Regions from separate parts of the Homo sapiens genome. Here regions 1 and 2 are each linked to region 3. Evidence: fine-mapped expression QTL. A gene starts in region 3. Each other region holds a variant in brackets. All regions are shown on one strand. Distances are between the middles of the regions.

Region 1 (4,352 bases), 21 kb after region 3:
TTCCCATAATCCCCATAATCTTGAATTGTAGTTCCCATAATGTCACGGGAGGAACCCGGTGGGAGGTAATTGAATCATGGGGATGGTTTCCCACAGGCTACTCTCGTAATAGTAAGTTCTCATGAAATCTGATGGTTTTATAAGGGTCTCCCCCTTCGCTTGGTTCTCATTCTTCTCCTTCCTGCCACCGTGTGGAGAAAGGAAACATTTTCTTCCCCTTCTGCCATGATTGTAAGTTTCCTGAGGCCTCCCCAGCCCCGCAGAACTATGAGTCAATTAAACCTCTTTTCTTTATAAATTATCCAGTCTTGGGTATGTCCTTATAGCAGCATGAGAACGGAATAATATAGGGAGAGAGGGGAAGAGTATGCACACTGCTATTTCAGCTGCTACCTCCCCAAACAAGGCCAAAGAAATAAAATACTCCTCAATAGGGGCTAGATAAATTGCAACCACCATTTACAGAAGATAACAAGAATGAAGTGCCTTCTCTGTGCAGATATGGCCCGAGCACCATGATATACTGCTAGGTGAAAAAGGAGCAAGGCCCGGAGTGTGGTGCGTGGTGTGGGCCCATCTGTGTACCAGGTAAAAGAGCAGATGCCTGCAATCCCACGCCAGGAATATTGTGTGTGGCAGTGGTGCATTTCCAGAAAGCCATATGGGAAAATACTCACGTTAGTCACCTCCCAGGGTGGAAATAGAGGGTAGAGAAGGCCAGATGTTCTTCATTTGTTCCCCATCAGTATAGCATTGTTTGAGTTTGAACCCTAAGCACATTGTGCTTGCAAACAATTAAAGAGACATCTCTTTTAAAAAAATAACAGGGAAGATGTCCCTCTTGTAGACCACCCAATTCAGGCTTTTCACTTCCCCTCATAACGCTGTTTAGAAGGTAGGTGATTTTCTGCTTTATTTCTCAGGAGTGCAGCCGGGGTCCCATTTCTCCAGCACATCCTAAGCTCGGGCACACAAAGTCCCAGAGGCACACAGCTTCAGTGCCTTGGGGATAGCAGATTCCAACTCTTGGGCCCCTAACTCAAAATCCCCAACAACCCTCGGTCACCTGTGGCTCCAGTCCTGTTTTGGTTTTCCACAGATCACAAAGGCATCAAGGAAGAGGCTCACGGTAAGCCTGGCCTACTCGGAGAGCCACCAGATCCGCGTGTCCCAGCAGGACTTCCGGCTCTTCCGCACCCTCTTCCTCCTCATGGTCTCCTTCTTCATCATGTGGAGCCCCATCATCATCACCATCCTCCTCATCCTGATCCAGAACTTCAAGCAAGACCTGGTCATCTGGCCGTCCCTCTTCTTCTGGGTGGTGGCCTTCACATTTGCTAATTCAGCCCTAAACCCCATCCTCTACAACATGACACTGTGCAGGAATGAGTGGAAGAAAATTTTTTGCTGCTTCTGGTTCCCAGAAAAGGGAGCCATTTTAACAGACACATCTGTCAAAAGAAATGACTTGTCGATTATTTCTGGCTAATTTTTCTTTATAGCCGAGTTTCTCACACCTGGCGAGCTGTGGCATGCTTTTAAACAGAGTTCATTTCCAGTACCCTCCATCAGTGCACCCTGCTTTAAGAAAATGAACCTATGCAAATAGACATCCACAGCGTCGGTAAATTAAGGGGTGATCACCAAGTTTCATAATATTTTCCCTTTATAAAAGGATTTGTTGGCCAGGTGCAGTGGTTCATGCCTGTAATCCCAGCAGTTTGGGAGGCTGAGGTGGGTGGATCACCTGAGGTCAGGAGTTCGAGACCAACCTGACCAACATGGTGAGACCCCCGTCTCTACTAAAAATAAAAAAAAAAATTAGCTGGGAGTGGTGGTGGGCACCTGTAATCCTAGCTACTTGGGAGGCTGAACCAGGAGAATCTCTTGAACCTGGGAGGCAGAGGTTGCAGTGAGCCGAGATCGTGCCATTGCACTCCAACCAGGGCAACAAGAGTGAAACTCCATCTTAAAAAAAAAAAAAAAAAGATTTGTTATGGGTTCCTTTTAAATGTGAACTTTTTTAGTGTGTTTGTAATATGATCAAATTTAATAAATATTTATTTATGACTGTTCAGCAATCACATCTCCTACATATAAAGCCACACCATAGTGGTTTCTGAAGTGAGTCTTAGAACCGATTCAGGACGCAGATTTCTCCTCTGAAGGGTCACAGCCACCCTGTGCCCTACCTTGGACTCGCAAGGGTTTAGGATCATTCGTTGATGTCAAGAGCAATTGAAGAATTTCTAAGGAACAGTTAAAGATGACTTACTTTTTTTTTTTTTTCATTTATAAAAATGC[T/C]ATGGACCCTTTTAAGAGAATCGGCATCATGAAATGAGAGAGAAAGTAGGATGGCTCTGAAATGTTTGAGAGTGAGTTCAGGAGTGGTTTACTCCTGACGCATCCAGCAGAGATGCCTCTTAAGCACCAGCCATGGCAGACAGTGTCCTTTGTGCTAGGAATACAGTGGTGAACCAGACAGCCATGGCCCTCTCTCAGGGAACTTACCTTCGAGTCAGGGGCAGAAAAACTAAATAAAAGTCAATAAACTATATCTATATACAGATACCTATATATTTGAGATGAGGGTCTTGCTCCAATGCCCAGGCTGGAGTGCAACGGCACAATCACGGCTCCCTGAAGCCTCAAATGCCTTGGCTCAAGCAATCCTCCCGCCTCAGCCTCCCAAGTAGCTGGGATTACAGGCGTGAGCCGCCACGCCTGGCTACAAGTCAATAAATAGTATAGCATCACAGAGCGAATAAGCACTGTGAAGAAAATGGGACGGGGGCTATGGTAGTGATGGGAATTTAGATCAGATGGGGAGGGGCCTAAGGAGACCTTTCTGAGGAGTGACAAATTGGATCAAAAGGTAAGCGACAAGAAAGGGCCACCTGTGTGAATGGGGGAAGGGACACAGAAGAGATGTTAGTGCAAGGAGGCTGACACGCTTGAAGGGAGAGTGGCGTAAGCCGACTATTGATGGAGCCTCCTCTGCACTAGGCACTGCCTTTAATGCTGAGATGAGGGGTACCCGGCTGGGGCCTGTCAGTTGAGGCCAGAGAAATTGCAGGGTTAGATCACATAGGGCCTAGGAGTTTATTCTGTTCTCCAAGCCCCTGGAGGTTGGCAACTGGAGGCTGACGTGACCTGATGAATGTGTGCAAAGATTACCCTGGCTGCTGGGCAGGGAATAGACTCTGAGGAGCATGAGTGAAAATGGAGACCAGTTGGGCAGCTGCTGAAGTGTGACATGGGGATGGGACCTTGGAGGTGAGTGGCATTAGGGAGGGATTGTGAGAAATGACTTGTAAATATACCTTGGGAAGGTAAAACAAAGATGATTTATTGATGGGAAGGATGGAATTGATAGAATGTGAGGGAAAGGGAGAACTCAAGGGGAATACTCTGATTTTTTAGCCTGTCATTGGTTGGATGGTGAAGCAGGCAACAAAAATGGGGGGGCCTGGGCAAAGATTAGGGGGGGGGGAGCCAAGAGTTTCATTTGGAGCTCATCAGTTTGAAATCTCAGTGAGACTTCCAAATTGAATAGGCAGTTGGATGCAGAGATGTGGAGCTTGGGCCTGGAGATGCACATTGTTTGGAGATATAAATGGTGTTTATAGACCTATGGTTTTATAATACATCCCTTGGAGAGATAGAGAGAAACCAGAGCCAAAGACCGAACCCAGGGTCACTCCACCACTTGGAGGCTGGGCCAGTGGCTGGAATGCACAGCAGCACGGGGCCTGGTGTATAGTAGGTGTTCAACAAATCTTTGTTGCTGAGGAAATCAGCACCAGCAGTAGTGACTGCTTATGCAGTTTCTGGAGCAGCTTGCTTCTGAAGTCAGATTCATGGATATCACAAGCTCGAAGACAAACGAACAGAGATGTTTTGCTCACTTTAGTTAATAGATTTGATCAATTAAACCTGTTTTTGGAAGTGATGTGTGGCTATCTTATTGAAGCGGCATTGCTGTCTGGGGTAAATAACCGGGGTTTGTCATCTTGCGCCAAGAGGATTAAGGACACGGACATATGTGGGTGGGTTAAGGAACAGAATGTTTAATAGGCAGAAGAAAGGAGAGAGGAGAGCAGCTCTCTCTCTCGTGAGACAGAGGCATCTGAAAAGGGAAAAGTGGTGGACCACAGCGTATTTTATAGGCAGGCTTGAGGAGGTGGTGTCTGATTTACATAGGGCTCACAGATTGGTTTGACCAGGTGTGACGTTTACGTAGTGCACGAGAAAGGCTGGCCACCCCACCCAAATCTGATTATGCAAATGGACTTTCCACTTGGCCATCTTGTCTTCTCCTTACTGCACTCATAGCTGGCAAAAAGAGAAGA
Region 2 (4,000 bases), 49 kb before region 3:
CAATTCTAGATGACAAGCTAAGAAAAGAAAAATGAGAAACTCCATGCAATGCTCTCCTTAAAAGACTGACAGTTTGGAGGGGACCAAAGCCTTGAATTTTATAGAGAAGTCTAAAGAAAGGGGAACAAGACTCATAAGATTGGAGAATCATATTTGAATACTTAAAACAAAGCTAATGCTAAAAAGAAACTATAAATGTCTCTGGAGGCACTTCAAAGCTGTCAGCCCTAATGGCACTAAGTTGCTTCTATAAAATATGTGCTTATGTAAAAGCAGGATTTTAGTTATGGGCTAAGTCTAATTTCTTTTCTTTGGTAATACAGTTCTCTCTCTCTCTCTCTCTCTTTCTCTGTGTGTCTGTTTTATCAAAGCAATATAAGCACTTGTTAGAATAATGTAATAGTTAAGAAGGACCTTGCCCTGTCTTTCCCATCCCAATCCCCGTTTCTTCCTCCCATCAGGCAACTGCTCTTAATATTTCTATTTTTAATTTTGATAGTTATCTCCACATATAAATAATGAGCTTGTGTTCCTATTTGTTGATTGAACTTCTTGAGACTTTCCCTCCCAACAGAATAGATGTTACTGTTTTTAGTTCTTCTATTTGTGAGTTTTATAACTTCAAATAGTATACCTGAACTTGTTTTTTATTTCATCAAATATCAACCATAGTCCCTATCTCTTGACTTTTCATGTTGTAAACTAAGGAAATAGTGTGATTCATTTAGATGTTTGATGTTTCTCTTTTCAGGAATATTATTTATTTTATAAAGTGAGTTGTGCCGTAATGTTGTTTGTCATAGGTTATCTTCAAGAAGAGAAGCAGAAATGTTACAACGATCTCTTGGCAAGTGCAAAAAAAGATCTTGAGGTTGAACGACAAACCATAACTCAGCTGAGTTTTGAACTGAGTGAATTTCGAAGAAAATATGAAGAAACCCAAAAAGAAGTTCACAATTTAAATCAGCTGTTGTATTCACAAAGAAGGGCAGATGTGCAACATCTGGAAGATGATAGGCATAAAACAGAGAAGATACAAAAACTCAGGGAAGAGAATGATATTGCTAGGGGAAAACTTGAAGAAGAGAAGAAGAGATCCGAAGAGCTCTTATCTCAGGTAAACTTAACCAGATCCATAATTCAGAGTGTTCACCGAACACTTTCTAAGTGTCAGGGACTATTTGACCACTAGAGAACTGGCTAGGGACAAAACAAATTCCTGCCCCTCATGGGAGTTATATTCCAGAACAGAAACAGACCATAAACAATAAATAAGGAAACTAAAGAAAATGCAACAGGGTGACATGACAAAGGGAAATTGGGGACCAGTGGAGGCCTCTCTGAGGAGATGGCATTTGGACAAAGACCTGATGATGAGGAGGACCCAGTGAGGTGGGTGACTTTTCCTCTCAATGGAGGAAATTGTACACACAAAGGCTCTGAGTGAGGAGGAGGTCAGTATATGTGAGAAGCCAAAAGAAGAAGTGAAGTAATGAGAGGAATCGAGGCTGATTCCTAGACTGGCATCTTAATGGTGATGATATGTGCTCAAGTGAATTCACATGGCATCTTCCATGTTCTTGTTATGCTCATAGCCTTATGCTATGGTATCATAATAATGTTGGAGTTACTACGTTAGGATTATTGGAATTGAACAGTACTTTGATGGAACTCTTTAATTTAGATTTTGCTTTGCAGCCTGGCATCATGGAAGGAACATTATTTGGAATCCATGCCTAGTCTCTAGTCCAGGATATATGGCCTTAGGCAAATCACCTAACTTCTCTGACTACTCACTGGTTATTCCCTTGTCAAATTAATAATAACCTCTGCTTGCCATATAGGGCTTTGGTGAGCGTCAGTTGAGAGAAGGTAAAAGTGCTTTGTAAACTAAGCGAGGTAAATGCTAGTTATTGCTACTATTTTAATAATAATTTTTAACAGTCCTACAAAAGTTGAGGGTGCTGGTGATGGGACAGTAACAAGTCCATCTATAACATTTGCCATCTTAGTCTTTTTTTTCTTTTTTTTTTTCTGAGACAGGGTCTTGCTCTGTC[G/A]CCCAGGCTGGAATGCAATGGCGTAATCTCAGCTCACTGTAACCTCCACCTCCTGTCTTCAAGTGATTCTTGTGCCTCAGCCTCCTGAGTAGCTGGGATTACAGGTGCCCACCACCACGGCTGGCCAATTTTTATATTTTTAGTAGAGATGGGGTTTCACCATGTTGGCCAGGCTGGTCTCAAACTCCTGACCTCATGTGATCCACCTGCCTTGGCCTCCCAAAGTGCTGGGATTACAGGTGCAAGCCACTGTGTCCAGCCTGCCATCTTAGTCTTTACCACTCACACTTCTTCTGTCTACAGGTATGAGCAGTGATACTAGGGAGAGATTAAGTCTGCTGATTAAATTTTGCTTCAGCTCTGGCTAAGGGCCCAGCACTGCCACCCATGTTATCCTACTCAGAAGTGTCAGAACCTCCAGGAAAGGGGGCATGGCTGCTGCAGAGTTCAGTGCTGTTTATCAGCATTCAGTCTGTGTGCCTCAGGGAACTCTCGGCAAGGGCGGTGGTATACTGCTTAGCTGCTGGCATAGATAGCCATCAGATGGCCAGCTGGAATGATTCACCCCTGACTAGCAGGTGTTGTCCTGGTTAGAGATGTGAGACTTGTGATGTGAGCTTTCCGTGCATCCCAGGTCAAGCCGGAAAAGGTTGGATGTGACAGCATTGGTTCTCTTTATGTCCTACAGGTCCAGTTTCTTTACACATCTCTGCTAAAGCAGCAAGAAGAACAAACAAGGGTAGCTCTGTTGGAACAACAGGTACTCATTCGGGTTGCTTCTAAATTCAATTCTGCCTGTTAGAAAATGCAGTTTTTCCTCATGTTTATGCTGTTCTATGGAGAACTGTTTGAAAGTTGTGAAAAGTGTCTTTAAAAGACTTCAATAAAAGTCTTTCTTCTTCAATAAAAAAGATATTTCAAGAGACTCTGCTAGCCACTTATTCCTGTTGCTGACCTTAGGCTAAACAGATTCTTGAGGTGTGATGGCAGTTTTCTTGACAGGTAGATGTTGGCCTTGGCAAATTTTGCTCTTCCCCAGTGGCTGTAGCTCCTAGCCTAACAATGTCTCCTAAGTAGGGCTACCTTATAACTTCAAGCAGAACTTGGAGAGACACCATTTAGTCTCAGAATGTATTATAAATGGTGTAAAGCAGAGATTTTTAGTATATTCCAAACCAGGGAATAGCTATCTCTTTCCCTTCTCCTTCTTCCCCCTTAAAAAAGGTGGATAGGGAGGAGTAATTCTAATCAACAACTTCTTAAGCTGCTCTTCATTCACCTATACCTCAGCGTTGGCTTTGCTCCTTGGATAAACCAAATCCTCAGCCATAAGCTGCCTCGTTTATTAACATTTCATGGTGCTTAGGTGAATTCTTGCTACGATGGTACAATAAATATTTTCTTCATGTGCTAATAAAAAAATGTGAGCATCCAGTCAAGAGAACTAGACAGTCTGTATCAGCTGTAATGGTCTTGTTCTGGGCCTTTTCCAGATGCAGGCATGTACTTTAGACTTTGAAAATGAAAAACTCGACCGTCAACATGTGCAGCATCAATTGCATGTAATTCTTAAGGAGCTCCGAAAAGCAAGAAATCAAATAACACAGTTGGAATCCTTGGTGAGTCTGGAATGATTAAACTAAAATTTGTCTTCGTCTTCCATTTATATACCAAATCAGTTCCGAACTTAGGAGGATACAGCTTAACACACAGCTAGCTGTATCTCAAATCAGTAGGTAGAGCCTCTGCCTCATTTGAAGCAACTGCCCTTTGAGCATCAATTCAGAGGACATGAAAGAGGGACATGATCACATCTGGAAACATTCCCCCAACTACCCCAGCTGCTGTGATGCTGGAGGCACTAAATAGTGCCTGAGCTGGGGTCAAAAGGGTAGAATAGAGGGTAGTCACAGAATCCTGAACTGAAATTGTGTTTATCTATT
Region 3 (4,352 bases):
GAAACCTCTCTGTGTCTATCTCATCACATCAGCCTGTGATGTAATCAATCTCTCTCCGTCTCTGTCTGTGCTTTTCCCTCTTACTTTCTCTCTCTCTCTCTCTCTCTCTCTCTCACACACACACACACATACATATACCTATAGTTTCCTTTCCCTCACACAAACACTAATATCCCCTGACCCTAATCAGACAGTTGCCAAAACCCCATTTGTCTGAGTTCCCTTTATTTCAATTTTTTGCCCTTTTTCAACTGTTTCAGGAAGCAAACCAGTTCTGTTTTTCAACTTGAACCTAGTCAATGTTCAAGCTGAGCATCTACTTCTCAGGTTAGAAGTCACATCATCAGCTCAGACCTGTTTGATACCGTGAAAAGCAGACACACAAATGGACCCCCTCCCCAGACAGTACTTCAGACTCTGGCGCAACCAGCCTGAAGTACTCAGGTTTCTTTCTTTCTTTCTTTCTTTTTAAGATGGTGTCTCGCTGTGTGGCCCAGGATGGAGCGCAGTGGCCTGATCTCGGCTCACCGCAACCTCCACCTCCCGGTTTCAAGCAATTCTCCTGCCTCAGCCTTCCAAGTAGCTGGGATTACAGGTACCTGCCACCATGCCCAGCTAATTTTTGTATTTTTAGTAGAGACGGGGTTTCACCACGTTGGCCATGGCTGGTCTGGAGCTCCCGACCTCAAGTGATCCACCCGCCTTGGCCTCCCAAAGTGCTGAGATTACAAGCATGAGCCACTGTGCCCAGTCAGTGCTTAGATTTCTTAAGACCCAACCTTAAGAAAGACAATTAGAAGACAGAGTGGGCAACTGGGAGAGGCCTGGTAATATGGCAGAGGGAAGAGGGGGTGAAGGTGTGGGTGGCAGGAGGGTGGCTGGTTGGGGAAGTGGCCACTGGATCTTAGGCCACAGGCATACTTTTCCATCTCCAGCTTCCTCATTTACAGAAAACGAGACTGCAGTGGTGTGATGGAAATGTGTGGGACGGGGACAGGTGACTGGCTTTCATTACTAACCAGAGGACAGCTTAGACAAGTCACTCTGGCTGGGCCTCAGTTTCCTTATCTCTAACGGGACTGGATTGCCCAGTGCTCCTCAAACTGTGGCACCTGGGGCACATTCATAGCTTGTGTGTGAATCTGCCAGCCTTGAAATATCTGTCTTCCTTGGATGGCAAGTTTATTAAAAATTTTGGAAGGACTCACTCTTTTTATAAGAAAGCATTTATGTCATTGTTCAGAATGCAAAATGTATATGCATTTTAGTTACAATAACTAATATTTGATAACATTTAACGAGTAATTACTGTGTGCCAAGTGTGCAAAACTCTAGGTGAGCCTCACAATAACCTAATGGGGTATTATTATTCCCATTTTATAGATTAAAAATCTGGGGTAGAGGGAGTAGATAATCCACCTAAAGACCTGTTATTAAGTAGTGATAAAAGATCTCCACTCCCTCTCTCCCCCACAAAAAATATGGACTCATTACAAGTTGTTTTAGGATCTACCTCCAGACCCATGGAGTTTCTTTAGTAAAGCCTGAACGACACAGGCCAAAATAATCTCCAAAGGCCAGCTCTGACCCTTTTAAATCAATTTTAGCTAAATCCGTTCACAAAAGGCTTCGCACATCCAGTGTCCCTGAAAAATAAAGGAGGTTGGGCAGGCCCTGCGGGGGCTCGAGGAATTCGCTAAGTGAGTTTTCTGGCTTCTGGATACACTTTCAAAGGGCCAGAGGGCACGAGGCTTCCGCCTTGGCCGCCACCTCCCCGGCCAGCTGCGGTGTTCGCGGCCAGTGTTGCCGGGCACTTCCTGGTTCCCGCGCGCCCCGGGTGCAGCTCCCTGCACCCAGTGCTGGCGCTCCTCAGAAGGGAGGGGGCCAGAGGCGAGATGTCGCAACCGCCTCCCTCCCTCTTTCCCCGCCTTGGCACTCAGTCGCCTCCCAGATGAGCACTCTCTCAGACCGCTGCGGGCCGCCAGGCGCCGGGAATGTCCCCTGAATGCGCGCGGGCAGCGGGCGACGCGCCCTTGCGCAGCCTGGAGCAAGCCAACCGCACCCGCTTTCCCTTCTTCTCCGACGTCAAGGGCGACCACCGGCTGGTGCTGGCCGCGGTGGAGACAACCGTGCTGGTGCTCATCTTTGCAGTGTCGCTGCTGGGCAACGTGTGCGCCCTGGTGCTGGTGGCGCGCCGACGACGCCGCGGCGCGACTGCCTGCCTGGTACTCAACCTCTTCTGCGCGGACCTGCTCTTCATCAGCGCTATCCCTCTGGTGCTGGCCGTGCGCTGGACTGAGGCCTGGCTGCTGGGCCCCGTTGCCTGCCACCTGCTCTTCTACGTGATGACCCTGAGCGGCAGCGTCACCATCCTCACGCTGGCCGCGGTCAGCCTGGAGCGCATGGTGTGCATCGTGCACCTGCAGCGCGGCGTGCGGGGTCCTGGGCGGCGGGCGCGGGCAGTGCTGCTGGCGCTCATCTGGGGCTATTCGGCGGTCGCCGCTCTGCCTCTCTGCGTCTTCTTCCGAGTCGTCCCGCAACGGCTCCCCGGCGCCGACCAGGTGAGCGCCCCTCTGTGTGTGCCGGGCAGGTGTCCTGCGCAGGCTGGGAAGCGGGGCCCCGACGGAAGCTGGGATGAGGATGATCAAGAACAACAATAGCCATTTATTGCACTTAATCGTTGTGCCAAATCTTGTGCCCATGGCTGTGAAGTTTAATCTCTTAAATCTCACTACAACGCTGTGCACACGCCCTCCTAAATGATGTAAGTGGAGTCCCCCAAATTCTTGCAAAATGCAATGACTGTTGCGAGGTTAATTAACGAGTAGTTTAGGAGCGAGACGGAACTTTGGGGGTGCAGGGTGGCCAAACACTTTGTATTGAATCATGATTCCTCGCCAGGTGCTACAATACTGTTATTATCACACCCATTTCACAGATGAGAACCAGAGGCACACCGAAGTGTATAATAACTTGCCCAGAGTATTTTATCCGTAATTCGAGGAGGAGATGGGCTCCTTCCAGAAGTTTACCCGTAATTCAAGGAGGAGTTGGGCTCCTGTCCAGGGTTGGGTTATGGTCCTGCTTTGAAAGCGCGCGGACAGGCATGTGAGACCCGGGGACCCCAGATGCAATGCTGTCTTTAGGGGACTTGTGACAGAATTCCCTTCCGGGGTCTTCAGTTTTTTCAGCTGCAAAACGGAAGGATTACACTAGACCTTCGAGGTGTCCTGGGCGCCTGAAATGTGCAGATTACAGAGGCTGGACCGACGAGCTCTGTTTTACATAGCGGGTCAATAGTTGTCATTATTAGCTCATAGGGGTGGGAGTGACCATGATCGGAATAAGGTTCTGCGGATAGTGCAGGACATTGGCTCTGTTCCCCTCAAGTCCCGCGGTCCGGAATCCCGAGCTCGGGTCTTTTTCTCTTGCCGCTTTGCCCGGTGGTTGCAGGGTTCGTGCGCCGGGATCCACACGGAAGAGGGAATCTAGACGCGGAGTCACGGTGGAGGACAGTGGCCGCCGTCTGGCTGTCTTCCCAGTGTGTTTGGTTCTCCATGCCTCGCGGAGAGAGATAGAGAAAGGACTTAGGTCTGTGCGCTGGGGGCTCAGCCTCCAGGAGCTTCTGCCCGTGGCTGGGTTCTTGGCCTCCCCTTCCCTGCCGGGGTCACTGGTTTTCCGGCCTGGAACCCCCTACCCTTAAGCTCCCTCTCCACCTAGGAGTGAATATGGGGCGCCCTGAGTAATCGTGGCACAAACAGGAATCACGGTCCCAAAGAGGGACCTTCGAAGTGGTCAGAGAGGGGAGTAGGGAGGGAGAAATGACATGTCACCAGGGGAAGGCTTGGTTATGGAGATGCACACAGCCCACCAGGGACACCCCCTGACTGTGTGACCCTCCAGAGCCTGAGACAGAGAGGTGGAGCTTCTCTGGGGGTTTTCCCAGACCAGTCTCTCACACAGCCCTTTTATTGGGGGTAGGATGGATGGAGTCTGCCTCCTGTATCCTGTGCGAGATTTTTTTTTTTAAACATAAATCAAACTTAAACACTTGTTTCTAATGCTTGTGTGGAATACATTGTGGGGTGTTTGTTTGTTTATGAGCTTGAATGACTAATAGGCAGGAGCCCCATCAAGCCTGTGGCACTTGATCAAATAACATGCAAGCTTGTGGCCATGTCCACTCAAGTGGGGCCCAGAGAAGCCAGGATTAGCTGAGCTGGTGGGTGCCATTTATGGGCAGACCAAGGGCTCTGGCTTAGTGGACAGGCTTGTTCTTAGCCCACACACACCTGAGAATCAAGGTGGGCCACGCAGATGCCTCTAAAAGCAAGGATCAGGAGGGGGCTGGG

Evidence for each region. PIP is the estimated chance that this variant, and not a neighbour inherited with it, causes the effect. A credible set is the group of variants that fine-mapping cannot tell apart.
Region 1: its variant is the best candidate, but not a certain one, in a credible set for the expression of FFAR4 in whole blood (TOPMed, PIP 0.51).
Region 2: its variant is the best candidate, but not a certain one, in a credible set for the expression of FFAR4 in blood mononuclear cells (TOPMed, PIP 0.54).

The regions. Positions count from the first base shown.
Region 1 is chr10:93,586,121-93,590,472 of GRCh38, forward strand. It overlaps FFAR4 (free fatty acid receptor 4), which reads left to right. Exons shown (of 3, transcript NM_001195755.2): 3 at 1,100-3,952. The coding sequence ends at 1,489. Among named protein-coding and RNA genes, the nearest start is that of RBP4, 13 kb to the right of the region's middle. The variant T/C (reference allele first, on the strand shown) is at 2,305.
Region 2 is chr10:93,516,132-93,520,131 of GRCh38, forward strand. It overlaps CEP55 (centrosomal protein 55), which reads left to right. Exons shown (of 9, transcript NM_018131.5): 6 at 804-1,117; 7 at 2,746-2,817; 8 at 3,551-3,676. Among named protein-coding and RNA genes, the nearest start is that of CEP55, 22 kb to the left of the region's middle. The variant G/A (reference allele first, on the strand shown) is at 2,058.
Region 3 is chr10:93,564,727-93,569,078 of GRCh38, forward strand. It overlaps FFAR4 (free fatty acid receptor 4), which reads left to right and starts at 1,939. Exons shown (of 3, transcript NM_001195755.2): 1 at 1,939-2,561. The coding sequence starts at 1,995. RefSeq lists an enhancer at 1,341-2,179.